Linked DNA regions of Homo sapiens: all the other regions are linked to region 1. Evidence: fine-mapped expression QTL. A gene starts in region 1. Each other region holds a variant in brackets. All regions are shown on one strand. Distances are from middle to middle.

Region 1 (9,760 bases):
GAGCACCAGTCATTTGCCAGGTTTTATGATAAGTGCTTGCTTATATGTTTTTCTCATTTAATCCTCACAGCATCCCTGCAAGGTAAGTGTTTGCTCATTTACAGATGAGGAAAGGAGGCTGACCAAGATTAGTAACTTGAGAGGACTCCCATGACTATCTGGGGTTGAAGACAGTTGGGGTTGAAGAGGGAAGAGTGATTGAGGATAGAGAAATATTTTTATGAAACCCGTGTTCTATATAATATTTGGGCTTCCTTTTGCCCTTATTAACTTTTTCTCAGTTTCTTAGTAACACAGCCTTTAGAAAAATTCTCATTTTAGGCCGGGCACGGTGGCTTATGCCTATAATTCCGGCACTTTGGAAGGCCGAGGCAGGTGGATCGCTTGAGCTCAGGAGTTTGAGACCAGCCTGGGCAACATGGCAAAACCTCGTCTCTACAAAAATACAAAAAAAATTAGCCAGGAGTGGTAGTGCACACTGTAGTCCCAGCTACTTGGGAGGCTAAGGTCGGGGGATTGCTTGAGCCCAGGAGGTCAAGGCTGCAGTGAGCCAAGATTGTGCCACTGCACTCCAGCTTGGGTAACAGAGCAAGATCCTGTCAAAAAAAAAAAAAATTCATTTTGTCTTAGCTAAAATTACAGAAGGACGTTTCCAAACCAGAGGTAGGAGCAGAGGCTACCACAAGTTAGCTGCTAGGCAAGCTGCCAGAGGTAGGACACCAGGCAAGGAGACAGGCACTGTGGAGGCTGGGCTTAAGGGACTCCAGATCACTGTCCTCGGCCTTGAGGCTGTCACTCCAGGGAATGAACTTAGGAAAGAGTTAGGACAGGAAGCCCAACAGAGAATGGGATAGGTGCTCAGAAACTCTGATCTTCAGAGAAGGCTCTGGTTGCTCTCTTTGCAGACTGGGCAGTTGCAGACCAACCGAGCTCGAGCTACTGTGGCCCCCCTGCCTATGACTCCTGTCCCAGGCAGAGCCTCCAAGATGCCAGCAGCCAGCAAATCTTCCTCAGATGCCTTCTTCCTGCCTTCAGAGTGGGAGAAGGATCCCTCAAGGCCCTAAGTCACCAGCACCAGAGCCCAGCTGCCCAGCTTAACCATATCCATGCTCAGGTTCACATAATGGCTATCTGTGGTCAGACTTGCTCTCTATCCGCCTGAGCCTCTGTGAGTGAGGGCTGACTGGGAAACAACAGCCTTCCTGTCCTGTTTCAGTGCTGTCCCACTCCTCAAGTCTGGAAGCGACACACCCGAGCCTGTCCTTTCTCCAGCAAGGACTTTCATTTTCTTTAGAATCATTTGCTACTGTTTACACAGGTGAAGATTAAACACCCAGTAAGCTTCTACCATTGTTAGGAGCATTCATAACTCAGAATTTCTTCTTGTAGCTCTGTGTAAGCAGGTGGATGAGGTCAGATCACCTTTGGTAAACTGGACCTCAGGAACAAGGATGAGGTTTTGAAAGCTCATAAAAGACAAGTAAGATTGAAATCCAAGCCTCATTTCAGAGCCTGTGCCCTTCCCACTACACCACCAGGCTTCAGCCTCCAAAGAGACAAGTGCTTGGTACCTACATGCAAAGTGTGTGTGCTGGGGGGTGGGAGGGCTGCCCAGAACAGGGGAGAGGATGGTGTAAAAAAAGACCTACTCCTTTCCTGTTACCCTCTCCCCACATGTACCAACCTTCCTGTTGCTCCCTCCATCCACAGAATAATAGCTACCATTTATAAAATGTTTACTCTGGGCTGGGAGCAGTGGCTCACACCTGTAATCCCAACACTTTGAGAGGCTGAGGTGGGATGATCACTTGAGGCCAGGAGTTCGAGACCAGCCTGAGCAACACTGTGAGACCCCCCCGCCATCTCTACATAAATAATAAAAACTTTTAAAAAAACACCCTGTGCTTCAGATTACACTAAATACTTATAATGTATCTAATTTCATACAAAAAGCCCTGTGAGGTAGAGCCCATTATAGCTTTTCCATTTTACAGAGGGGCACAGGGGAAACTGAGGGTTGCAGATGTTATCACCCAGGGCCACAGAGCTCACATCTAGCCCAGGGCAGCTTGACTTGACTCCCCAGGCACTGAACCGCCACACTTCTGTTCCCTTCCTGGGCCCCTTGCCTCTCCGTGACTCTCAACACATTCCTGGTTCTCCTCTTGATCCCCACCACACCCAACCCAACCACTGTGTCCCCTCTTTTTCTCTTCACACACATAAACTTCTTAAACCCAAGCTGACTTTAATGAGAATTTTAAAATTTTTAAATAGGTCTCTGGCAAAGAACAATGCAGGAGTAAGGATCCAGGCACAGTCCAACATCTCCCTGAGGCCTCCACACAGGCCCCTCAAACTGCACCCATTCTGACCATGCACCACTTTCCACAGACCTGGTCCCACAGCCGTCCCTTCATTTGGGGAAGTAGGGAAGGGATGGCTTTGGGGGATGCAGAGCCCATCCTCAGCCCTGCCATCTGCCCCACTTCTTAGGACTTCCTGGGATTGTCCTTCCCTTGACTCTCCCATCCCTCTGGTCCCCTGGTCTCACACAGCATGGCCCCTCCCACCCTCTGGCTTCTGCTGGTTCTAACCATCTTCTTTGATCCCTAGTGCCACCTCCCCATGGTCCCCCTTAGCCACCTCAGCCTTGCCGTCCTTCTCAGGTAGAGCCCTCTGACTTGACCCCAGTCTTGTCAGTCCCTACTCTAGAGAGCCCACAGTCCCAGCTCCCTGAGGCCCCGCTCTTCTGGACCTGGCTGTACAGGGCTGAGTTGTGGCTTTTGATGCCACTGCCAGTTGCAGTACCAGGTTCAGGGAAGGCTGGGCCCTGGGGCTTGGGAGCAAGGAGGGGCTTTGTGCTCCGAGGGGGTGGCACAGCGTAGTCATCAGTGGCAGGGTTGTAGGGGAGCTCATAGCCCTCCTCCTTCACCCGAGCTTGGCACCACCATGCATCCTTGGGCTCCCGAGGCAGATCATAAAGGCCCTGGGGAGGGACTGGGGCCAGGCCCTCAGGTTCATCATAGATGGGATCCTCTTTGGGGTCTGTCAGCTTGGCCTTCAGCAACTGCTGCTGCGCATGCTCATACAAGTCCCAATAGAGAGGTTTCTTCCGTTGTACTCCCTCTCCTGCCTGAGCAGACGTGCTGTCCAAGGGGTCTGAGTATAGGGAGTCCTGGGAAGGGCATGGAGCAATGCGCAGGGAGTCTAAGGGCTCAGCATACAGGGCTGGGGGACTGTCGAGGAGCTCTTGGGGGCCAGGTGGGGAAGGCAACTTCCCCTCTGCCACCTCCCCTTCATGGGAGTCAGCTCTGAGAACATCGTGCCCCTGTCCGGCCTTTCCCTGGGCCTTCTGCCGGTGGATGGCAGTCTCAACTGCCTGGAAGATGTCATTTCCCTGTGCCGTCTGGAAGGTGAAGGTTCCAGGGCCTGAGGGGCAGCGGCGGCCGGCCTCGAAAGAGAACATGACCTAAGGAGGGTAGAGGGGGAAACACATTACCAGGAGCCATCAGAGGAAGTGAGTCACACGCCTGCACTAGTTAGGGTATCTACAAAGAAGAGACCACCTGCGAACAGACGCGGGGTCACCGGGTAGGCAAGAAAGGGGGATCCAAAGGTCAGAGCTTCCCACTTTCTGTCCTGCCCCACCCCTCCCACAGCTGCCCAACCCAGGAAGCCCTCCCGGACAGCCCCTGCACCTTGTCCCGGCCATAGCGACGCAACAGAGTGTAGGGCCAGGACAGGAGTGGCTCCAGTATCTGACTCTGGGCCCCCACGGTCAGGAGAGTCAGCCTTTCAGCCTCCACCCTCAGCACGTAGGAGCCATGCAGGCCACAGCGCTCGGCGGCCTCAGTCCTCTGCACCGTTACCCAGAATTGGGATCCTGGAAGGCATACACGATTAGACAGCTGCGGGGGAGGGACGGGGGCAGCAGTGGGGACCCAGAGGACTCATGAGCATAGTGTCCAAGCACTCACTCGGAAGCCAGATCTCAGGGCCTTCCTACTTCTTACTTCCCCATGGGCCCCTGGGTATCCACCCACTTCCCAAAGGCCCTCGGCCCTCCTCCTCTTCACTCCATCCCTGCCCGGGCTTCTGAGGCGTCTACCTTCCCAGGTAGGGCTGTACAAGGAGTTCTCCAGCATCTCCAGGGCAGAAAGCTTAGGTGGGTTATCGGTAGGCGCCAGAGTCCAGCTGCCTTTCTGTAGTAGAGAGCATCGAGAAACCCGTAATTTCCTCAGCGGGGAGCGGGGGTCGGTCTGAGGCAGCCCCATTTCTCTGCCTCTGTAACTGCCCCCACCCCGCATCGCCGCAGCTCCTCACCGGAAAGGCGTTTCGGCACAGCGTCTGCACCCAGGCTGCACTGGACGGCGCGTCGGCCGCCAGCAGGTGCGAGCGCTGAGCAGTGTCCAGGCGGAAGGCAGTGGCGCCGGGCTCAGGGGGGGTCTCCACGGTGACGGGGGCCACACTCACACACTCAGCCAGACGGATCACTTTGCAGTCCAGGCGGCGCGAGCTCCCTCGGCCACCCCCAGAGCTCGACCCCTTATGGTCAAAGAACTCGAGCCGCGCTACGCCGTGGGGACTGGCCGGGTAGAGCACGGCCCAGGTCTTCCTCCACCTCTAGGGAGAGAGAGAGAGTGCTCGAGAGGGAGTGGCGTGCGCAGGCGGCCCGGGTCCCGACGGGGAAGGAGGTTGCGGCGCAAGTCGATTTGGGATCTGGGGCTTCCAAACGGGGTTGGGGGCGAAGTTTCCCAAGGACGATGCCACTCCGTCTCCCCAGGACCAGAACCCCTAGACTACAGACGCTTCCCGGGAGTGTGCAAAGCAACTTCACGGGAAAGTCACAGGCTCTCCAACTCCCGGCGCCGCTCTCCAGCCCGCTGCCCACCTCTCCCTGTTTCTGGGCTCTCTCACCCACTACTAGCCCGGATAAGGTTCGGCATCCATGCGCCAGACTACCTTGGTCCCAAAGCGCTGACTCTGCAAAAAAAGCGGCCCTTCCATCACTGCTCCGTCCATGGCCCCCGGCGGTTCCTTCCGCGCTTCCTGGCCCTGCGGCGGGAGGCGGGGCGGGAGGCGGGGCCGGGTTCCCTGGAGGAGTTTCCGCCCCTCCCCGGCCCCCGCCGGCAGCCGCTGGGGGGGTCGCGGTGGGGTGAGGGAGAGGAGCGAGAAGGAATGGTGGAGACCCCCGGATTAGCCGGGAGCTGCAGCACCCCAGGCCCCTACCCGCCGTCGTGGGGGCGCGCCAGTGGCTCCACCGAAAGTCCTCGGTTTTGGCGCGAGGGCCCTGGCCTCTGGGCGTGGTGGCTGCGCGTGACGTCATATGCCCAAGGTGACGTCAGAGTGAAAGCCATGACATCACCCCGAAAGCGCCCCGGGCACCGGAGAGACCCACACGGGCCTCCGGGGCTTTATTTACCCTGGCCGGGCCCGCCCCCAGCCCCGCCCGAGCCGGGCTGTTTAGACTCCGCTGGCCCGGGACTCGGAGGGAGGGCTGGGGTTGAACCGCTTCCCGCCACCACCGGGGCCGCCCCGCCGCCCGGCCGCCGCTTGCATGTCAGCTCCCTGACCGCAGAGGCCTGGCCTCCATGCCGCGGGAAGAGAAAGCTTCATTGAACGAGCCGGGAGGGCCAGGGAGGGGGAGGGGGCGCGGCAGTGGCCAGCTCCACGGGGAGGGAGGACCCAGAGGAGGAGAGGAGGGAACTGGCCGGGAGGAATGGAAGGAGAAGGCGGAATGTGGGAGGGCTCAGGGGGATGTGGGAGGGACGAACGGAGAAGGGGGAGAGAGGGGGGTCCAGTCTCCCCTGGCCGAGCATTTTTTTTTTTTTTTGGAAGTCCTAGGACTGATCTCCAGGACCAGCACTCTTCTCCCAGCCCTTAGGGTCCTGCTCGGCCAAGGTAGGGGGAGTCACGCTAACCGCAGAGGGAATGAGTAGGGGATGGAGAGGATGTGGAGGGACCAGGGAAAACGGGTGGTGTGGGATGGAGTCGAGGGGAAGCCACCCAACTGAGAGTTTGATTCTTGTCAAAGGGCAAGTGAGACAGAGTACACGGAGGAGGCACATACCGGAGGCGGGGGCTACGGGTGTTCGAACAGGGCCGCCAGGAGCGCCCTAAGGGAGGGGGCTCCTCCGGGAGGCGCTGCCCCTGGGTCCCCAACCCAGAACAAAGCTGCCTTGTTGGATTGATTGTTTGGGTTGGGGGAAGCATGTTGACGGGGGCTTGCTGTAGAGGGGCTGTTCTCAGCCCTAGGCAGAGAAGGCCTTGGCTGAGGAGCCATAGCGCCTGGCCTCCCGTTGCCCGGTGACAGGGATGGTGGTGTTGGCAGGAGGCTGGGACAACCCTACCCCATCCCCCGCCCAGCCTTGAGGCCTGGCCCTCCTGGGCCTCTTGACCCTGCAGGGCATCTGAGAGCCTGCGTGTTGGGGAGGGCGTGCAGCAGGTTCTCCAGGCGAGCTTTGGTGCCAGCCTTCCCTGCCTGGGAATCTGCTGGGTTAGGACTCTGGGCTCCCATTCAGGGGATCTGTGATCCCAGGGCCGCCTAGGGCCCCTTACGTGCCTCTCTGCACAATCAGTACAGCTGTCTGTCCTCCCTCTGAGTAAATGGGGTCATCTGGATCCCTCCCACGTCCGCCCCTTGGCTCTTGTCAATCCCTCTCCTTCTCACCCGCGGTGTGCTTGGTTCCCCTATACTGAGTGCTTAGTTCTTTGCCTATCACTTTCTATCCGTTGTCTCTCTCCTCTGTGTCTTTCTGGTTTTCTCTCTCTCATTCCCACAGTCTCCCTTCCTCTCACATCCTGTCTGTCTGGGTCTTCCTCTCTCTCTACGTGTCTCTTGCTCAGTCTCTATCTCTTTTTATTGACCCTTCTCTGACTCTCGATCTCTCATAGTTGTCTCTTATCTCTGGGTCTCTCAGGCTGTGCCTCTATGACCTGTGCCTCAGCCCTTATTTAATGTGTTTCTCTCCCTGTCTCTTGGTCCCTGGGGCTCTTTCTCTCCTGTTGTCTCTCGCTGTCTCTGTCTTACTCAGTGTCTGTTTTTCTTTCGTGACTTCTCCCTCTCTTTCTGACTCTGGGCCCCACTCAATCTGTTTCTCTCACGCACACTTTGTCTCTGGGGCACCCAGGCCTTCCCTGCCATGCGACCTGTCAGTGTCTGGCAGTGGAGCCCCTGGGGGCTGCTGCTGTGCCTGCTGTGCAGTTCGTGCTTGGGGTCTCCGTCCCCTTCCACGGGCCCTGAGAAGAAGGCCGGGAGCCAGGGGCTTCGGTTCCGGCTGGCTGGCTTCCCCAGGAAGCCCTACGAGGGCCGCGTGGAGATACAGCGAGCTGGTGAATGGGGCACCATCTGCGATGATGACTTCACGCTGCAGGCTGCCCACATCCTCTGCCGGGAGCTGGGCTTCACAGAGGCCACAGGCTGGACCCACAGTGCCAAATATGGCCCTGGAACAGGTGAGCAATGATCCAGGCATATCCTAGATATTTCCTATGTGTGGCCAAAGTGCAGGGAAAGGGAACACGAGGATGGCACAGCCATAGGGACACACGACACCAAGAACAGCCAGCATTGAGTAAATCCATGGATGACAAACCAAGCAACATAGTTACTTCCCAGAGCTGTGTGACCTTAGGCTAGTCAGTGCTTTCTCTGAGCCTCAGATGCCCTGTATGCAAAATGACTAGATGATGTCTAAGTTCTTTTCTGCTGCAAAAGTATGATCCTACAAAGCCATCCACAAAACAGCCCAGATACAGGTGAGCCCTGTACAAATAAAGTACAGTTAGTCTCATGGGACGCTAAGAGCAGGTAAATGATATCTGGATGTCCCAAAGTCACAAGGGGTCACAGACACTGCAGCTAACAAAATCAGGTTATGGGCCAGAGCTAAAACTAACAAGGTGGTACTGTCTAAGGACAAGTATAAAATCTAGGACAAGTATGAGTGTGGGTGGTGGAGGCTTAAGAGCAGTTCCCTAGGTGAGGCCTAGGACTGTGCCCATGGTATGAACCCACAGTGGGAATGATGGACAGAAGCAGGTGCAACCTGCAGCTGATTCCCCAGTTCCCACTGGCTAGACCACCTGTGGAATTAAGTGTCATTTGTAGATGCTGTGTTTTAAGAGGGACAGTAGAAAATGGAAATACTTTCAGAGGAGAGCTGCCTAGATGTGAAAGATTCAGAAGCCAAGTTTCAAGGAGGAATTGCTGAAGAATCAGGGGATTGATATGGAAAGTAAAAACCTTGCATAGCAATGGCGTAATGGTTGTTTTTAAATATGGGAAGGACAGTCGTGTGGCTGAAGGATTTTTCTGGTTGGCACCAAAGGAATGAATCAGATGTGGTAGGGGAAAGTCATGAAGAGTCACAAGGACTTTGATGGTTACACAGTCTGGTGGGGCAGGAGCTAGGTGTCTCCGCAACAACTGGGTAAGTCCTGTTGGGATGTGAATGAGATGTCCTTGAACATTGGCTAGGACAGATGACCTTTGAGGCTGCGCCCAATTCTGAGAGGAAGCCAGTGATACTCCACAGGGTTCAGGCCGGGCTCAGTGGCTCACGCCTATAATCCCAGCACTTTGGGAGGCTGAGGTGGGTGGATCACCTGAGGTCAGGAGTTCGAGACCAGCCTGGCCAACATGGTTGAAACCCTGTCTCTACTACAAATACAAAAATTAGCCAGGTATGGTGGCACATGCTTGTAGCCCCAGCTACTTGGGAGGCTAAGGCAGGAGAATTGCTTGAACCTGGGAGACAGAGGTTGCAGTGAGCTGAGATCATGCCACTGCATTTCAGCCTAGGCAACAGGGCAAGACTTCGTTTCAAAAAAAAAAAAAAAACAGGTTTCAGACAGAGAGAAGAACAAGGGGCTATATGGCAGCACAGACAGGGCGGGCACAAGAGAGAATGCAAGGATGTGAAGAAAGGATCTTAGACATCCAAGCCTCACAGATAGATCAAACTCCTAAGCCCCCACGTATTGGCTTTATGGTCTTAAGCAAGTTGCTCAGCTTCTCTAAACCCCAGTTTCTTTATATAAAACAGTGTTCTGGCAGCTCTGTTCTAAGAATGATCACATATGTGCACACCATGGCAGAGCACCTGGCACACAGTAGGTACCTGATTAATTGTAGCTATCAATGAATGGGTAGAGACTGATCAGAACTTCAGGGTTGATTCTTGGTTTTTTATTCACCGTATCAGGTTCTTGAGTATCCCCAGATCACACCAATTTTCCCTCAATCTTATGCCCCCTTCCTATTCCCTGCCAGGGTCCCCTGTCCCGTCTCCACCCCTTATCATACCAGAAAGATGGGATCATCATGGCCAAGTGGGAGGCCTCAGCACTCACTCTTCCCTACATCCCCATTACTCCCCCATCCTCCCTCCCCAAGCTTCTCTGTCCCTTCATCTCCCCTTCCACAGGCCGCATCTGGCTGGACAACTTGAGCTGCAGTGGGACCGAGCAGAGTGTGACTGAATGTGCCTCCCGGGGCTGGGGGAACAGTGACTGTACGCACGATGAGGATGCTGGGGTCATCTGCAAAGACCAGCGCCTCCCTGGCTTCTCGGACTCCAATGTCATTGAGGTCTGCATTTCCTAGACATACACACACACACTACCCAGGATAGCCGAGAGTACTGTGGGGTGGTTAGCGGAGACATTAGAAGGTAGTTACCCCTGGGGGATCATTTGGATTGGTGGGAGACTTGGAAAAGCAAATGATAGAGCTCCCAGATGCTGTAAAATCCAA
Region 2 (9,760 bases), 220 kb after region 1:
ACTAGCTCTTGCTTTGCCCCTGAATGGAATTTAGGCAAGTCACAAGGTTGTTCCAGCCACCCTTGGTCTCAGTCTCATTTTAATAATTATAATTTCCAGTCCTACCTAAAGATACCACTTCAATCTTGACTTGGAGTGGAGCCTCTTCTGGTGCTGCTAAAGAACAGAGGCCCGTGGTGGATGGTGGTCTGGATGGGGAGTCCCTGGTTTCCACTCTTCCTCACTTATTTAGCTAACCAGGGTCCTCAACCCCGTCAGGGTTGTTGCCTGGAAGAGAAGAGGTGAGAAGAATATGAAAACTATACGTTTGTGATCTCCAGCTCACCAGTGGAACATGGTGATTCTTTTACAGATTCTTGCTGTAACTCCTCTGTTACTCCCCTCAAAGGCCAGCTTTTTCCACCCCTGTAGGAAATTCCTTTCCTACACCCACCCCATTTATCTCATCCTCATGGCCCCATGGGAATTTCTCTGCTTCTGCCCCCACCCATCATCTCTTTCCTGCCCATTTCTCCTCCATCTTGGATGAAGCTACCCTCTTCCCCTGGTCCTGGTTCAGCCTTTCATCGCTGCTCAGTAACATGAACCCCCAAAAAGCCAGCCAGCAAAGCAGAGCAGGCCTGCCTAGCATAGAAAATGCCAGAATTTGGAGAACAAAAGTGCTTTTTTGGATAGGACTGTTTTTTGTTGTTGCTCATACAACACAGCTCTTTGTGATTAATCTACATTTAACATAGCTCCAATCAAAGTGATAAAGAAATATTTTTATTAAAATGATTTCCTTTTATGGCAAAATAAGCATAAGATTGACCATTTTAACTATTTTTGAATGTACAATTCAGTGGCATTAATTATATTCACATTGTTCTGTAATACAACCATCACCACCATCCATTTCCAGAACTTTTTCATCATTCCCAACTGAAACTTTATACCCATTAAACACTAACTCCCCATTTCTCACTGCCCCAGGCCCTGGTAGCCATTAATCTACTCTCTGTATCTATAAATCTGACAATTCTAGGTACCTCTATAAGTGGACTCATACAGTATTTGTCGTTTTGTGTCTGGCTTATTTCACTTAGCGTGATGTCCTTAAGTTCATTCATGTTGTAGCATGTGTCTGAATTTTATTCCTTTTTAAGGCTGAATCACGATTGTATGTATGTACCACATTTTATTTATCCATCTGTTGATGAATATTTAGGTTGTTTCTACCTTTTAGCTATTGTGAAGAATGCTGATATGCACATTGGGATATAACTATCTGTTTGAATCCTGGTTTTCAGTTTTCTTGGGTGTATACCCAGAAGTGGAATTTACTTAATTGTTCTTGAATAGGGAATACCTCTGTATGGTGGACAATATAAAAGGTACAAGAAGTCATAGAGTTCCCTGAGCCCCGACCTCCAAGTTCCCCTCCCAGGAAGCATCACTGTAACCAGTTTCTGTGACCTCTTCCCTGGAGAGACCATACTGTACCCATAGGCACCCTCTACACAGGCATGATGACAGCCATAAGCACTCTTCTACACTTTCCCTTTTTCCTACTTAACAATATTTCTTTTTTAAAAATTTAAAAATCTATTTATTTTTTTCTTCAACTTTTATTTTAAGTTCAGGGGTACATATGCCAGATGTGCAGGTTTGTTACATAGGTAAATGTATGCCATGGTGGTTTGCTGCACAGATCATCCCATTACCTAGATATTAAGCCCAGCAAATATTAGCTGTTCTTCCTGATGCTCTCCCTCCCCTAACAATATTTCTAAAAAAATCATTCCATAGCACCATTTAAAGAATATCCTCATTCTATTTAAAAGGTTCATCGTTTTCCAAAGTAGAGACAAAACTTGTTTTTCTTTCTTTCTTTTTTAAAATCAGTCCTTTATTCATGGACATTCAGGTTGTTTCCAATGTTTTGCCACTGTGAACAATGCTCGGATGATAACAGCCAGCATTTCCTGAATGCTTACCATGTGCCAGGCCCTTGTTAAAATCCTTCCCATGTATCATATTTAATTCTCACTACAACTGTGACATAAGCACAGGGAGGTGAGTAACTGTCCCAAACCACATCTCTGTTTTTGTCCACAGGTGGGAGTGTAAGATAACCTTCCAGATAAAGAGTTGCTGCTACCAAAAGGTATGTCCATTTTATTTATTTATTTTTATTTTTATTTTTTTGAGATGGAGTCTTGCTCTGTCACCTAGGCTGGAGTGCAGTGGCACGATCTGGGCTCACCACAACCTCTGCCTACTGGGTTCGAGCAGTTCTCATGGCTTAGCTTCCCAAGTAGCTGGGACTACAGCCACTACACCTGGCTGACTTTTGTATTTTTTTAGTAGACATGGGGTTTCACCATGTTGGCCAGACTGGTCTTGAACTCCTGGCCTCAAGTGATCCACCCACCTCAGCCTCCCAAAGTGCTGGGATTACAGGCGTGAGCCACTGTACCTGGCCAGGTATGTCCATTTTAAAGTTATATAAATACAGCCAAACTGGCTGCATCGAGGCTGTGCTTATCTGCATCTCACTGGCAAGTAGATGTATGAGGGCCCATTGCCCTCCTCTCTCACTGTTGAAAAATTTCTTGATATCTGCCGATCTGAAAGGTAAAAAATGGTATTTCATTGTGGTGCTGATTTGCATTTTAATTTTACTTGTAGATTTTTAAAATAACACAGTTACAAGATTCAAAATTTGAAGAGTACAAGAGTAGAGACAAACCCCCATCCATGTGTCTCCCCAGTGCCCAGTTCCTGTCCCCAAACAAAATCAGGCCTCCATTTGCCTCCATTTCTCCCTCCTATGCCTATGGTCAAAACCTGGGCCACACCATTATCCTTAGCTGCTCCATCTCTGAAATATTAAATTCAAACATTCTACTCTGATCTCGCCACTGTCCTATTAACTACCAAGCACCTGACCCTCTCTTGATGCCCCACCTGCCCTTTACCTTACCTTCCTTTCCCATCCAGCTGAGGTTCTCTGCCCTCCAGAGGCTCCATGTCAGGCGCCACTGGGCTCCAGCCACACCTGCCTGGAAAGCCTTACTTTCTGTTTCACGATACCTAGTTCAGAGTCAGCCCACCCATGGGATCACTCTCATTTAAAGATCTTAGGCAGAATAACCACATAATTTACTGCTCAAAATGGGACCCTTTTGAGAATGAAAGGAGCACAACTAATTATGAAGCCAAGACAACAGGGGCAGATAGTTACTGTCCAAGGCAGATCGGGATGCAAATTCAAGCTCAATCTTAAGGAACAATTACATTTAATTTCGGAGCAGAGATCAATAATATGTGCTGAGCCCTGCGAATGATTTAAGTTGCTGCCTTTGTCCGCTGCCCAAGCTTCTCTTCTAAATGGATTTTTTAAACAGTGCATTTCCCTAACACTATTTTCTTAAAACTTTATCCTTTAGAATACCAGTTTCGGCCCATAAACTCAAGTGTGTAAAAAAATTAGTTTGTTTATAAAATTCTCCTTCATCTGTACTTGAGCCCCGCTCTTTAAAAAGGTGCTGACCCTTAATCCCAGTCAGTTCTGAGTTTCCTTTGCAGTTTCCATTTTGGGTTTGGGGTGGGGTGGAGTGCAGGGTTCTAGACTCTCAGTGACCTACAAAGGGTCCTGCCCTTCATGTCATCTATCCTTGTCCCATCTGGTCCTGGGTCGTTGGTGCCTGCAGGTTATTGTGGAGGTCAAAGTCTCTCTCCACCTCTTCAAGCAGCCTCACTCAGGGAGCTTGCCTGGGGTCCTCTTGGCCTAGATACACCCAGCAGCTGTTCTGTTCCCTGCTCTCAGATCCACAGATTGTGAGGGATGCTGCTTTCTCTGTGGGGCTCAGTCCAGGGAGCGGGGATTGGGACCTCAGCCTCCAGGACCTAGCAAAGTCAATGTTTCTCAACTTCCCTCCAGCCTTTGTCCTTGCCCTGGGGAATTATTCTTGGATATGAGTGAGGGGCAGGGAATGCCTTGATCTTTCTCATGACCATTTTCTCCCACACTTTGGTCTAGGTCTAGGCCAGAAGTCTCTTCTATTCCCCTAAGGAAAGAGGCTCCTTACCTCTTCTTTCTGTTTTCACACACCTTCCCTGCAGCAATGAGCATAGAATGGCCTGGCTATTTGAGGCAGGGAAGGGAGAGAGGTAAGGGGAGTATCAGGCTGGAGAAGGCATTGGCTAATATTTCAGAACATAATCTTGCAAGGCATATAAAAATATCTTATACAAGATGTGCTTCCTGTTTTAACTATTATGATTTTATAATTTTTCAGATCTTGTAGGCAAGACTCCCTATTCCCATCCCCCAGGCCAGGGCAGCCAGTTATCAGCTGTGTGAACTTGGGCAAATTATGTTATCCTCTCTAAGCTTTAGTTTTTTCGTCTGTAAATGAGGATAATAGTAGTTCATATCAGTGCTTCTACTTGCCAAGCACTGCTCTCAATGTTTCATGTATGTTACCTCATTTAATACTCATCATAAACCTATGGGATAGCTGCTATCATTCCCATTTTACAGATGAGGAAACCACTTCTCACAGTTGTAACTTGCCCAAAGTCATGTGATCTCCTGCTCTTAATCACTTCCCCAACCTGTCTTTCATAAATATTAATAATGACCTCAGCCAGGCGTGGTGGCTTACTCCTGTAATCCCAGCACTTTGGGAGGCTGAGGTGGGAGGATTGCTTGAGCCCAGGAGTTCAAGACCAGCCTGGGCAACATATTGAGACCTCATCTCTACAAAAAATTAAAAAGTAGCCTGGTATGGTGTGGCACCTGCCTATAGTCCCAGATATTTGGGAGGCTGAGGCAGGAGAATCGCTTGAGCCTGGGAGGTCAAGGCTGTAGTGAGCTGTGATAGTGCCACTGCACTCTAGCCTAGGTGACAGAGTGAGAATGCTGTCTCCACAATAAATAAATAAATAAATGAAATGACCTCTTGAGGTTGCTGTGAGGATTAATTGAGGTAAGGTATGTAAAGCTGTCAGCCCTGAGCCTAGCACATAGTAAAAACTCAGTACATTCTAAGCTCATACTTTAGCCATGATTTTTTGGTCATTTTCATTCAAAATGCCCTTGGAATTGTATTTAAAATATATATAAATGTCTGAACTTAAGCATATTTGCCCTATTCAGTTTTCCCATCCAGAAATATGATGTCTTATTATGTGTTTCTTAGCAAAGTTTTGCCACGTGTCCTCATATAAAACATGCATTTCTAGGCGAGTTTATTTCTAGATGTTTTAGGGTTTTTGTTTTTATTGAAAATGAAATCTTTTCCTCCATTGTATCTTTTGATCAGACAGTGCTGGTGTCTCCAGGTTCTTATTAGTTAATCAGCTCCCAGATGTCTCTAGAGGCTATGTCTTTCCATAGCCCTCTTATTTTAGGTTGACATGAAGATCATTTGGCCCAGCCAGTGACATACGCTCTGAGAGAGAGGCACAGGGGCACAGGGTGAGAAGTAGCTTTCCAGGGTAGCTCAGGTTGGCTGAGGTGATCAGAGAACTGTCCTTTGGCTAAGGAAGTACAGCCTGGGGAGAGGGGAAGGAAGGGGCCAGCCCTTGCTTGGCTGCATGCTGTTTCTGGGTCCATTTGGGGATCTGTCTGAAGAACGAGTTCCTAGGTACCCACATTTCCTCTGTGGCCTCAATGATTCCCAATAGTGTGTGCCAAATGATGGCTCCAGTGGCAGCTCTGCCAAGGCCCAAGATGCCTCCGTGGGCTCTAGCTTGCT[T/G]AAGTAGAGAGACTGTCATCCAGCAATGTCTCATTCTTCATCATGTGATTAAGAGCAGGAGATCACATGACTTTGGGCAAGTTACTTACAACTGTGAGAAGTGGTTTCCTCATCTGTAAAATGGGAATGATAGCAGCTATCCCATAGGAAGTGGAGGATACATAATCTGTGGCGTCCCTGAATCAGCTCCCTGCCTGACTCCACTGCAGACCTCCAGAGGGCAGCAGAGAGCAGGCAAGACGGGAGAACAGGACTTGGTTCCTGGAGAAGCAAAAAAGACTCTCTGCTCCTGCAAGCTGCTAGGAATACTGCTCATCCCCCTCCCCGCCTCCTCAGGATACACATGTGAGCTTCTTCCTGAGGGTGTAATAATTATAATAATATTATTAGTTAATACTAACTATTCCCTGTGGGCCAGACATTGACCTAAGGTTTCACATTGATTCAGATAACCATTGAGGTAGATATAATTATTATTCGCATTTTTTTTCAGTTGAGGAAATTGCAGTGAAAAAAAAAAGAAGTTGTCCAAGATGCCACAGTTAGTTGAGTCAGGATTTGGACCCAATCATTTATGAGCCAGGCTCTATTCTAGGTATCAGAGATACATCAGTGAATAAGACAAACTTTCTGCCATATTGGAGGAACAGACAAAAAGTGAACAAATGAATAAACACATACTGTGGTTTTGGATAGAAATGCCATTTAGACAAATAAAGCAGAGTTAATGACCAGAGAGGGGCATTTTAGATGGGCTGGTCAGGGAAGGTTTTCTTGGGTAGATGGCATTTGACCAAATAGTTGAATACACGAGGTAGCAAGTCAGGCTGAAGATTAGGGAAACAGTAAGTGCAAAGGTCCTGAGGTGGGAATGAGCCTGGGGTGTTAGAGGAACAGCAAGACTTGCGTCGTGGCTGCTGTAGAGTGAGCCGAGTCCATAGGCCACAGCAGCGATTGGGAAGTAGATAGGGGTGGTGAAGAAAGAGAACTCCTCCACAGCATCACCTGGGCTTGGCCTCTTACAATGTCTCAGCTTCTCTTTAACATATCTCTCACCTTTTTTCACCTTCCTGCAGAGTGCTGACACCATCACAGTATGTTCCCTTCTCAACCCTGGACATGGTTCAGAAACAGCTAAAGCAGACAAGAATCTGGGGCAGCCAATATTGTACCACCTGCCAAAGCTTGGCACAAACAATCTGGAAGCCAAAAATTGCACATACTGTGGTGAGTACTGCCCAGCCTGTGGGGAACTTCTTGTGGGTAAAGGTTCTAGATAAGCCTGCCAGGGCCCCCAAATGAATCCTTAGTCCCATTAACAAGGGCCTAAGTCCCGCAGGCCTTTCCAGGGTAGGAAGCTGCTATTTTCTTCAAAGAATTTTGCCCCCATGCCATGGTCCTAGGTCAGACCTACCTAAATCCTTTCAGATGTCAAACCCAGGTAGGGTTCAGATGGCATTTAGCCAGGAGATGGAAGGGAATCCGTCCCAGTGAGCAGCCATCACTGTCCACCAGGTATCTGAAGAAAATGGAGGCACAGAGGTCAAACAGTCATCCCTCAGCATCTGCAAGGGATTGGTGCCAGGACCACCCGTAGATATCATAATCTGAAGATGCTCAAGTCCTTCACATAAAATGTGACCTATGCAATCCTCTGTTTATCTTAAATCATCTCTAGATTACTTCGAATACCTAATACAATGTAAATGCTATGTAAATAGTTTTTTATACTGTATTTTGGGAGTATTATTTTTTATTGTTGTATTGTTATTTATTTTTATTTTTTCAAATATTTTTGATCTGCTGTTTGTTGACTCCTTGGGTTAGGAACCTGTGGATATAGAGGGCCAACTGTACTAAGAATCTTTAGCTCCCTCTCCTGGCAGATCCCTGGCGAGTGAGGTGGGCCTATGTTGAGTGCTCCTTTTGCCTGAGTGAGAGCCTAGAACCAGAGACTGAATGCCCTAATCCAGGATTTCTTGATCATGGCACCATTGATAGTTGGGGTCAGATAATTTTTTTGTTGTGGGGGCCATCCTTGTAGGACGTTAGCAGCATTTCTGACCACTACCCACTAGAGGCCAGAAGTACTCTCCCTCCAGTAGTGACCTTCCCTCCAGTATAACCAAAATAGATCCAGACATTGCCAGATGTGCCCAGGGGAAGACACCTGTGGCTGAGGAACACTGGGGCCAGTTCTTTCCCTTTCCCCAAGACCAGTGCATGAGCCTCAGCTGTTACCACTCTGGTGGTGAGGAAGAGTTGACAGTATCCCCCAAGCATTTACTTCAGTGCCACAGCTGAGTGGCTGGCTTGGCATGTCCTTGGCTGTAACATGGAAGGAGGCCAGAGGACAGGGAGCAGAGAGAAAAGGGGTAGCCATATCTTCTCTCAACATTTTTTGGCTTACAAAACTAAACCACAGGGAAGGGCAGGGATGAGGTTGGCCATACACATCACAGGACTAGGTCTTTCTCTCCCTCCTCATCTCTCTCTCTCTTTCATGCACATACATGCGCACACACACGCACACACACACACACACACACAAATGGACACCCCTCTGCCATTCTGTGTATTGGCTTTTCTCTCTCCCACTGAAGACAGGCTTTTTCCAGAGACAAAAGAGTACTTTGTGCAGGAGGAAAAAGTTAACGAATGGACTGATTTTGCCCAAGAGATTGGCAGGGCAGGAATAAGAGGTTATGAGTATCAATGAGAGAAGAGAGGAAAGGATTCATTATGATGTCCAGACCAGAAGGGGAAGTAAATGAAGCCATGAGGAGCTGGTATATGGGGAGAAGAGGAAGATGCCTGAAGATCAAAGGTCTTCATGCAGTTGAAAAGCAGGAAAGAAGGGAGTCAGAGCTTGGGAAGTTATCCATTAAGAGTCCCAACATCTGACCAGAACTGTCAATGTATGTTTATTTTGCTTCAGCGATAATTTCACTTAGACACATAGAATCGTAGGGCAGTAGAGTTTCAAAGAAACTTAAGAGATCCTTGAGTCCAACCCAGTCTATGTGGACTCTTTTACTAATTCTTCAGTGCTGGACTTTGAGAATGAGACTTGTTCACAACCCCTCTGTGCTTAGAATCAAATGAGAAATAAGATATAGAAGTCCAGCAGCTGGAACTAAAATAAATTTATGACAGCTAAAGCTGATTGGAGAATGTGGTTTTGAATGTACAGTTGGGCTTCCTAATTCTTTCCCTCAGAATGAAACTTATCTACCCAGAACTGGAAGACTCCCCTATCCCACAACGCAAGAACCTGCCCTTCCTAGGGCAGGTTGAAAAGAAGAGGAGAGGAGGGAAGCACAGGCCTTCTCTGAGGAGGCTGTTCCCAGAAGGAGGAAATCCAGAAGAACCTGAGTCATGACATATGCCCATTTTATGTGCTCCAATTCTCCAAGCACACGAACCACTCATCCTCTGCTAGATAGCATGAGTTTAGAGGTAGAGCAGTAAGTGGAGAGTACTTTTCTCAAGGCTGCAGCAAGGACAGAAGTTCCCACTTTATAAGGTGAGGCAAAAGTGCTTGGAGGGAGAGAGGTAGATTTCCCCCTGACAAATGCCATTTAATAGAGCAAACTCTGCTCCAAGAACACTGAGGCCCAGAGAGGTGATTTCCCAAAGGTACCATGGCTCTGAAAGAATAAGGGTCTCCAGACTCCTAATGGTGAAATTTCACCATTTCACATGTGTAATCAAAGGAGGACAGGTTCTTCCACATTTATCAGCATAATAGCAACAACAATCTTCTATTTCTTCATGCACAAGGCCTTCTAACTCCTTCCTTCATCACTATCACTGCCTCCACATCCTCCATCTACACCTTGCCACCTCTATCTACACATCACACCCTCATCCACACCTCACCACTACCATCTACACCTCACTACCCTCACCTATACCTCACCACCTACACCTAAACCACACACCTCCATCTAGACGTCACCACCTCCATCTAGACATTACCACCTCCATCTAGACCTCACCACCACCATCTA
Region 3 (9,760 bases), 67 kb before region 1:
ACAGATTGTAATGGAATACAATTTAAAGTTCATTTTAAAAAATATATGTGGGAACTTATTGTGTAATAAAGATAGCATTTAAAATGAGTTGGGAAAAAGGCTATTAATAAATGTTTGGATCAGCTGGATAGCCATATGGGAAAAATAAAGCTAGATCCATACTCACAGCATCTACCAGCATAGATTCCTGATGGAGCAAAGTATAAAAATAAACTATACAAGTACTAGAACAGATTGTATTAGTCTGAGTACAATCAGGAAACAAACCACACAGTGATTTAAACAAGGAAAGTTTGTGTAAAAAGTTTTAATACAGGCTGGGCGTGTTCGTTCATGCCTGTAATCCTAGCACTTTGGGAGGCCAAGGAGGGAGGATTGCTTGAGGCCAGGTGTTCACAACCAGCCTGAGCAACATAGTGAGACCTCATCTCTACAAAAAATTTAAAAATAAAAAATTAGCCAGACATGGTGGCCTGCAACTGTAATCCTAGCTACTCAGGTGGCTGAGGCGAGGGGATCCCTTGAGCCCAGTGCCATGAGCTATGATTGCATCACTACTGCATTCTAGCCTGGGTGACAAAGCAAGATCCTATCTCAAAAAAAAAAAAAAAAAAAACTGAAATATAGCTTAACATATTAAACTATGATAATAGATTACCTATAAGATATAAGGGAATTTATATGGTACCCTAGGGCTAAGGGAGAGATCCTAAGGAAAGTCAAACTTGAAAGGGGGACTCCCTTCCCGAGGCTGGGGTTCACACCAAATTGCAGAATGTGTATTTGTAACCCACTGGATGGCAGAGTTCACTAGTTTGTCAAGGCTAAAGTTGGTCTGCAGTTCCTGGGAAAGCAGGAAGCTACTCTCCAGTGATAGGTGAGCTACAGTGGTGGCTGGGCTTACAGGCATGCAGAGAGAGTGTAGGCAGGATGCCCAGAATACGTATTCTCCATGTTGGAAGAGCAGTAGCATTGAGATGGCCACAGGAGACAAACTTCTCACGGGGAGGAACAAGTAAGCAAAGGGAATTAGGCATTAGTACAGGCAGGAGGCCTGAATCATATGGTGTCCATGTTGAAAGGGCTGCAGAAAGGCGATTACTAGGCCAGGCAGGGCTATGAAGTCACTGAAAGACTATGAATTCTGAATGCATGGATGGGTCACCATTAGGTGTCCCTATACCCCACAGCTGACCCACAGTATGCTGCATGTAACAATAGGAGAGCCTCTTTATGTCCCTCCAGTGCCCTTTACTAAGAAAACTTAACATTGTGCTCACTGTAAAAGAGAAATGCTTAAAGGAATTTATCACAGAGCATGTACTGAAGGATGAATTTGGAGTTGAGAGGCAATAAATTAATAATTAATACACAGACCATGGGGAGAAAATAATAGGAATGGCTTTTCTAAGCATAATATAAAACCAAAAAATCTAAAAATAAAAGATTAATAATATATAAAAACAGAAAATGTATGCTTGGAAAAGAACACACATGCAAATTCTAAAGATAAATAGCTATGAGGAAAAATATTTGCTTCTCATATCATGTAGAGTTAATTTTCTACATACATAGAAAACTCCTACAACTCAGTAAGAAAAAAACATTCAATAACTCAGTAGAAAATGAGGATGGATATACACAGTCAGTTTTCAGAAAAGAAAATATAAATGACATTGAGACATGAAAATACATCAACCTCATTCATAGTAAGAGAAACCCAAATATGCAGAGATGTCACTTTCCACCTATATGATTGGCAAAAATTTTCTGTGACACATTTTCATGAGAATTTGAAGAAATAAGCATGCTTATATGCCATTTGTCAGTGTATAAATCGACATTATAGAGGGCAATTTGGTGACAGTATCACAATTTACATATCTTTTAAAGTAGCAAATTCACTTCTAGGACCTTATCCTACATATATATTTACACATGTACAAAAATAACTTAAGTACAAGATTATTCATTTTAGCACTGTTTGCAGTAACAAAAGATTGGAAACAAACTGAATGTCTGTAAATAGGGGATTGGTTACATAAAATCACGGTTCATCCATTAATGGAATACTCTATAATGATGTGAAATGATTGCTCAAATACAATAATCAACAAAAGCAAGATACAGAAAAGTATTGCCATCACTTCTATTTAGGGAAGAAAAATGATAGAATTACATATCCTTTTGAATTTCAAACCCTATGAATGTATGTATTCAAAACACATAAATATTAAAAATACATTTATGCTGATAAAATACCAATTTATATATAGGGAGTCTTTGTAAGATTTGATTTTTTATAAAGGGAATTCTGATTTTCTTTTTAAATATTTTTAATCCCCTCCCTAAACTGCATTCTGGTTTCTTGACCTGACCTCCAATGAAACATCAATCTAAGTTATCCTAACTGCCTAGGGCCATATTATCTATCTATAAGATAACCCAAAAAAGTTCATGTATGAAAGCCCAGAAATAGAATTCTTGAAGATTTTGTCAAGCCAAGGCATTTACATGATGTCCAACAAATATTAGCCATACTCAAGTGTTCTAGGTCAATAATATATGTCTACTGATTCCTGGAGTTTACCCAATTATTACCAATTTTTTATCCCTTATTTCTCTAACTTGACTTTCTGATAACCAACTAGAATGTGCCACAGCTTTACAGCCTCTGAAATCCTCTTCACCTTTACTTTAATGCTGGCTTATGCTGATCTAGCACTAGCCTGCTTATGCCTTTGTGACCAATCCCTCCAACAATGATATGAGTGTCAGCCTATTTCAAGACAACTCTATAGATAGATGATACACAGAGAAAAGACTTAAATTTTACATAAATGAGATAATACTATGCCTGCTGATTCCATTATCTAATTTTTTTTAATTAACAGTATATTGTAGGCCAGGTGTGGTGGCTCACGCCTATAATCCCAACACTTCGGGAGGCAAGTTGGGAGGATCGCTTGAGCGCATGAGTTCGAGACCAGCCTGGGCAACATAGCAAGACCTTGTCTCTACTAAAATTTTAAAAATTAGCCAGGTGTGGTGGTTCATGCCTGTAGTCCCAGCTACTCCAGAGGCTAAGGAGAGAGAATCGCTTGAGCCTGGGAGTTTGAGGCTGCAGTGAATCATGATCACGCCACTGTACTCCAGCCTGGGTGACAGAGCGAGACCCTGTCTCAAAAAAAATTAATTAGTTTAATTAAATAAAACATAAGTTAAACCAGTTTCAACCTTAGCTGCACATTAGATTTGCCTGAGGAAGTTTTAAAATATATCAGTGCGTGGAGCCCACCTGATAAAATTTAAATGTCTGAGGGTATGTCTCAATGCCTCAAACTCTCTCTCTCTCTTTTTTTTTTTTTTTATAGACAGAGTCTGGCTCTGTTACTCAGTCTAGAGTACAGTGGCACAATCTCAGCTTACTGTAACCTCCACCTCCTGGGCTCAAGCCATTCTCCCACCTCAAGTCCCAAGTAGCTGGAACTACAGGCACGGGTCACCATGCCTGGCTAATTTTTATATTTTTTTTAGAGACGGGGTTTCACTATGTTGCACAGGCTGGTCTTGAACTCTTGAGCTCAAGCAGTCTGTCCACCTCGGCCTCCCATAGTGCTGGGATTACAGGCGTGAGCCACTGCACCCAGCCCTTAAACATTATTTTACTCTCAATTATTACTGTTTTTAGGTATGCATATTAGAGATGACATACAGTGGAATTTTTCAATCTAGTCCAATAATTTGTTTTTTAGCTGGTATATTTTAGGAAGTAAGTTTGTATTTATTGTAATTACTGACCTTATTATTATTAAGATTATTCTGATTATCTTACTTGGTGTTTACTATTTGTCCTGCCTTTTCTTTGCTTGCTTCTCCCATTTACTATCTGATTTTGGGTTTGTTTTTTTTTTTTCCACTCTATTTTTTTTTAAAGTGTATAATCTATTTATTTTCTTTTAGGGGTTGCCCTAAATTAATTGGTATCTCTACCCTTCACTAAACAATACCTTAGAATGCTTTAACTCCGATCATCTCCCTCTCATCGTGCATATTTTTGCCCCTGTATTTTACCCCCAAATTAGACATTACTGCTATTGTTTTATACAGCTAATATTTATTTCATTTTACTCATATATTTACCAATTTATTTGCTTACCCTTCCTTCTTGCATATCAGACCATTTCTCTGTGATCAGTTACCCTCTCTCTTCCTTGAATTATATCCTTTAAATCAGCACCATTTACTAGATATGTAATGTGAGCCACACATATAATACAAATTTTTCTATTAGCCACCTTTAAAAATAGAAAAAAAAAAAAAAAAAAAAGCAGGCAATGGCCGGGCGCGGTGGCTCACGCCTGTAATCCCAACACTTTGGGAGGCCAAGGCGGGCAGATCACCTGTCAGGAATTTGAGACCAGCCTGCCCAACATGGCGAAACCCCGTCTCTACTAAAAATACAAAAAAAGCCAGGCATGGTGGCAGCCACCTATAATCCCAGCTACTCAGGAGGCTGAGGCAGGATAATCGCTTGAACTCGGGAGGCGGGGTTGCAGTGAGCCAAGATCGTGCCACTGCACTCCAGCCTGGGCAACAAGAGCAAAACTCTGTCTCAAAAAATAAAATAAAAAATAAACAGGCAAAACAAATTTTAATATTTTATTTGTCCTGACATATCCAAAATATCATTTCAGTATGTAATCAATATAAAAATTTATTGAATTTTTTATATTGTCTTTTTTTTTAATTTTGAGATGGAGTCCCACTGTGTGGCCCAGGCTGGAGTGCAGTGGCATGATCTCAGCTCACTGCATCCTCTGCCTCCCAGGTCTAAGTGATTCTTATGCCTCAGTCTCCCGAGTAGCTGGGATTACAGGTGTGCACCACCACACCCGGCTCATTTTTGTATTTTTTTTTTTTTTTTTAGTAGATGTGGGGTTTCACCATGTTGGCCAGGCTGGTCTCGAACTCCTGACCTCAAGTGATCCACCCACCTCAGCCTCCCAAAGTGCCAGGATTACAGGCTTGAGCCACCGCCCCCAACCAATATTAAACTTTTTTATGTTTGTTTGTTTTTTGAGACGGAGTCTCGCTCTGTTTCCCAGGCTGGAGTGCAGTAGCGCGATCTCGGCTCACTGCAAGCTCTGCCTCCCGGGTTTACGCCATTCTCCTGCCTCAGCCTCCCGAGTAGCTGGGACTACAGGCACCCGCCACCATGCCCGGCTAATTTTTTTATTATTATTATTTTTTGTAGAGACGGGGTTTCACCTTGTTAGCCAGGATGGTCTCGATCTCCTGACCTCATGATCCGCCCACCTCGGCCTCCCAAAGTGCTAGGATTACAGGCGTGAGCCACCGCGCCCGGCCAATATTATCTTTTTTACTACTCTTCAAAGTCTTATGTGTATTTTACATGGACAACAAACCTTCAGTTAGAGTAGCCACGTCTCAGATAATAACCACAGGCGGCCAGTGGCTGCCATATTTGACAGAGGCCCGGCTGGATCAGTTGTTAATCTGTGCCTCTCATTTTGCCAGCTGGGAAAGTGCTGCTTTTCTGGTGCTTTTTTGTTTTTTGGGGTTTTTTTTGAGACGGAGCCTCGCTCTGTCGCCCAGGCTGGAGTGCAGTGGCGCGATCTCTGCTCACTGCAACCTCCACCTCCCGGGTTCATGCCATTCTCCTGCCTCAGCCTCCCGAGTAGGTGGGACTACAGGCGCCCGCCACTACGCCTGGCTAATTTTTTTTTTTTTTATTTTTAGTAGAGACGGGGTTTCACCATGTTAGCCAGGATGGTCTCTATCTCCTGACCTCGTGATCCGCCTGCCTCGGCCTCCCAAAGTGATTGCAGGCGTGAGCCACCGCGCCCGGCCTTTCTGGCGCATTTTTAAGGTGTGTTTCTCTATTCTGGAGCTGACTCCTAGAGCCCTCAAGCTGGATTTGAAGGAGAAGCTGTTTGGACAGCATGTTGCCGCGGAAGTGATTCTCAAGGCACTGACTGGCTTCAGAAGCAACAGAAATTCCTAGAAACAACTAATTCTTTCCTTACGTGGCTGAGCTGGCATAGGCAAGAATTTTGTCAGCCAAATTGTGGCTGAACGTCTTCACTCAAAAGGCCTGAAGAGTAACTCTCCACCTATTTGTACTAACTCTGTACTTCCCTCATGAGCAAAAGATAAAAAACTGTACCAGGCAGGAGAACCCAGCATTATCTTGTTCACAGGCCATTTGGACTGGTCTGGGCAAACTGCACTAACTCTGGCCTCTGCTTCTCTTTTCTTTGCATTGCAGTAGCCCCAGGCTCCACTGAGTTAAGACACACTTGAACCCAAATTTCCCAACTCCCAGTTTACATGGTAGTCACATTCTCCAATGAATGAATGCACTCAACATTCCCACAGAGCATTTGGTGTTAGGTGGGGGTTGTTCAGCAGGTTGTTTGGGCATGGGGTCATTTAATGCTCTCCACCTATGATGCAGCCTCAGCCTTGCCTCTGCATGTTGCAATGTAGATTAGAGGATTTCTTTTCTTCTAAACACCTTT[T/C]ATTCCCTTTGTTCCTCTCATCTTTCGAGTCCTTGGCATTGCTTTCTTCAAAGAAAGCCTCAAATAACTGAACATTGACACTGTTTCTCCTTTTCAGATATTCCTTCCACATTTAATTTGTATTACATTATCTAGGAGGGTTCATTCTCATTTAAATGAATGTCGTCCTTGTCAAGGTTAATATTCCCACTATTAGGTGGGGACTGAAATAAGAAACAGAAACTTAACTGAACAAGGAAGTGAAAGTGAGTGTTTGCCACACAAACTGTAAGATAGAGAAGACTGCCAAAATCAGGAATAATTTTCTTATTTTTCACATTTTTTCGTAAATCTCTAGAAATATAGTAAAATAAATAAGGATGTATCTGGGGGAGTTTCCTGGTCACAACCTTTTTACATTGTGAGGTTGAGAGCTTGTTGCCTGGGTGTCTTTTTGTTCCAAGAATGTATCAGAATAAATGCTTTTCATGAGATGTCACCTAGGTCAACTCCTTCATTCATTCCGTCAGTACAAGGCATTGGTCTCGGGCACTGTGCAAGTCTTAATCTAGTTCCTTATTCTTCAATATGTCTGGTAATATTAAGTTGAGATTTTGCTTCACAGTGAGATGAACACTATGGATTAGTTAACGGTGAATGATAAATATTTATGTATCTTGTGTCTCTTATACCTTTAAAAAAGTCACATTTAACATGTCATTTGAGTTAGGAAAAAACTTCCTTGCATTTTAGCACCTATCTCTCTGCCAATTTCAACTTTGTATAGATAAAGTTTTGGAAAAACTTACCCACTGAATGGAGGTGAGAGTGCAGTTTCCTAGAGTTCTTCCCCAGGGAGCTCTGATCTTAAGTCTTTTAGAGCATGAAGAGCAGCATAGTGCTTCTGCTCCCTCAGAGCATCCTTTGAGCCTCCCCATCCCATTTCATCTTTTATGGTTGGTCTAGGACCAGTTACAGAAGTGGATTCATGGTAATGTGAGTGCATATTCCAGCTATTTTCATATTTGACAAGATGCATAAATTCCACCCCCAGGGTTGTCAACACAATCAGTCTGTTTCTAGACCACTACAAAAAGGTTTTTACCAAAAAGCCATCTTCATCTTTCCCAGAAACATAGACAGGGACCTCATAACTGAGATAGCTCTTGACTTTTGGTGGGTAGGAGGAAGGAGGGAAGACATTTAGCTGAAGGACCTGGAACCTGTGCCGTCTGATAGTCTTCAATAATAAGCACAGTGGTCTGTGGTGCAATGGACTGATCAACAAAACCTTAATCAATTACTTTACCTTTTTCCTGCCGATGAAGTACAGACGTGAAAATATGCATGAAGGCAGAGATGAGGGCCCATGGTTCTGCTATAGATGAAGACATTGTCACAAGAGTGGCAGAGGAAATGACGCTTTTCCCCAAAGACAAGAAAATCTACTCAGTCAAGAGCTGTAAGACTGAACAATGACAGCTAGATTTCCACTGAGCTCTTAACCAGATGGGATAAGAGGGATTTGGGAGGCTCAGCACACGAGGGACCTTGCCTTTCAGAGGCATTTTGAAGACTTCTTTGGGGTTTGGCACATTTGCACCTGTGAACTTTCGGGATATAGAAGTTTCTAAGAATTGGTTTTTGAAAAGACACTAATCTGTCAAGTGCACTTGTCATTTTGCAACATGACATCAATCCAGCTGTTAATTGCAGTTAAAGATAAACTATAAAATCCCCTTCACACTTATTGTTGCTGACTTTGACAGAAGTGCCTGGAAACAGCTGTGCAAGGGAGGCCTGAGGATCGAGGATTGTTTCTGACCCACAACACCCACACCTCAGAAGCTACTGTTGTGACTGAAGGGGTTCAAGGGCCCTGCTACAGTCTGAAGAGCATTAGGTTTTCACCTGCTAAAAACATTCTTCTGCTGTTTCTTTTTCTTCACACAGAGAGGGTTCACTGACTTGTATTTTCAGTTTAAATTGGTGGCACTTGACAGGTACAGGTGGTGTCTGGTGGGAGGACATGGCCCTGCACGCTGAGCACTCTTGGCCTGGGGTGAACTGTCTGCATGTGGGGTGGGAGCTCCATCTGAGGTCTCTGCAGAGCAGGGCAGACAGGTCCATTGCTGTGGCTGCTGATTACATCTGTGATCATGGAATTCCTTCACCCATCTCTCACTTGATATCACTTACCCACTTGCCTTCCTTGTACCACATCTTCTCCTGACCTTCACTTGCTACTAAATTCCCCCCAACCATATCATCATAGAAGCTAATCAGAATAAGACTGTAGCTTCAAATTTGAGTCCTTGGTTCCTAAGGTTAAACGTTTGCTGTTACCTTTAAAATATGGGTCAATCTCTTGCTTTACTCCAGAGAACCATTTGAAATTCACAGGACATGCACATTCTCCATAGTTGACATGTGCACAGACTAAGCAGTCAGTTTGCAGATTCGGCATTGCCAAAGAAGTGGGAGTATTAAACACTAGAAATGCTAAGAGTTTTCAAGGATTTGTATATTTATTATAATGTTTTTACTTCTGAACCTTCGATAATAGAAATATAGAACATTGCTTATTTTAAAACATGAGAAGGGCACAAAATGGAATAATTGCTTATTTTTTCCCAGACACTCTTAAAACAAATGGTATGAATTTTTTTAACTTTTATTTTAAGTTCAAGGGTGCATGTGCAGGTACATAAGTAAACTTGTGTCATGGGGGTTTGTTGTACAGATTATTTCATCATCCAGGTATTAAGCCTACTACCCATTAGTTATTTTTTCTGATCCTCTCCCTCCTCCCACACTCCACCCTCTGACAGGCCCCAGTGTGTGTTGTCCCTTTTTATGTGTCCATGTGTTCTCATCATTTAGCTCGCACTTATAAGTCAGAACATGCAGTATTTGGTTTTCTGTTCCTGCGTTAGCTTGGAATTTTTATTGTTAAATCCATAGTAATATGTCATCACAATTGTAGACACAAACAAGCTTAGTCCGAAGTTGTGGCTGGTTCTGGGTGTCATCTAATGACACCCTATATGACATCACCAGGCTGGACTGCCCTGATCACTGAGAAGTAAGGCTTAGATTCCAGCTATTTTGAATCATTCTGTGTCTGTCCTATAGTTGTAGTACAACTGCAGACACATAATTAGAACAATGGTGTAGCATTTTTGTATATAAAATGTAATAGAATGAATTTGTGACATCAAAATGCCTTGTAGGGT

What was found. PIP is the estimated chance that this variant, and not a neighbour inherited with it, causes the effect.
Region 2: its variant is fine-mapped to the expression of DOK1 in whole blood (INTERVAL, PIP 0.94).
Region 3: its variant is fine-mapped to the expression of DOK1 in whole blood (TOPMed, PIP 0.92).

The regions. Positions count from the first base shown.
Region 1 is chr2:74,550,020-74,559,779 of GRCh38, reverse strand. It overlaps DOK1 (docking protein 1), which reads right to left and starts at 5,060. Exons shown (of 5, transcript NM_001381.5): 1 at 4,966-5,060; 2 at 4,327-4,626; 3 at 4,112-4,205; 4 at 3,702-3,886; 5 at 2,229-3,472. The coding sequence starts at 5,025. The coding sequence ends at 2,666. LOXL3 (lysyl oxidase like 3) reads left to right here and starts at 5,838. Exons shown (of 14, transcript NM_032603.5): 1 at 5,838-5,904; 2 at 7,134-7,458; 3 at 9,432-9,595. The coding sequence starts at 7,146. M1AP (meiosis 1 associated protein) reads left to right here. Exons shown (of 11, transcript NM_001321739.2): 10 at 71-82; 11 at 906-1,897. The coding sequence ends at 1,064. RefSeq lists enhancers at 4,759-4,818, 4,443-4,960, 6,444-6,738 and silencers at 4,969-5,718, 6,444-6,738, 6,724-7,018.
Region 2 is chr2:74,331,241-74,341,000 of GRCh38, reverse strand. SLC4A5 (solute carrier family 4 member 5) reads left to right here. Exons shown (of 31, transcript NM_133478.3): 3 at 2,098-2,146; 4 at 6,824-6,974. Among named protein-coding and RNA genes, the nearest start is that of SLC4A5, 7.3 kb to the left of the region's middle. RefSeq lists an enhancer at 5,865-6,054 and a silencer at 7,557-7,646. The variant T/G (reference allele first, on the strand shown) is at 5,748.
Region 3 is chr2:74,617,114-74,626,873 of GRCh38, reverse strand. The region is part of intron 2 of M1AP (meiosis 1 associated protein); the gene reads left to right. It also overlaps the pseudogene TOR1BP1. Among named protein-coding and RNA genes, the nearest start is that of M1AP, 26 kb to the left of the region's middle. The variant T/C (reference allele first, on the strand shown) is at 6,546.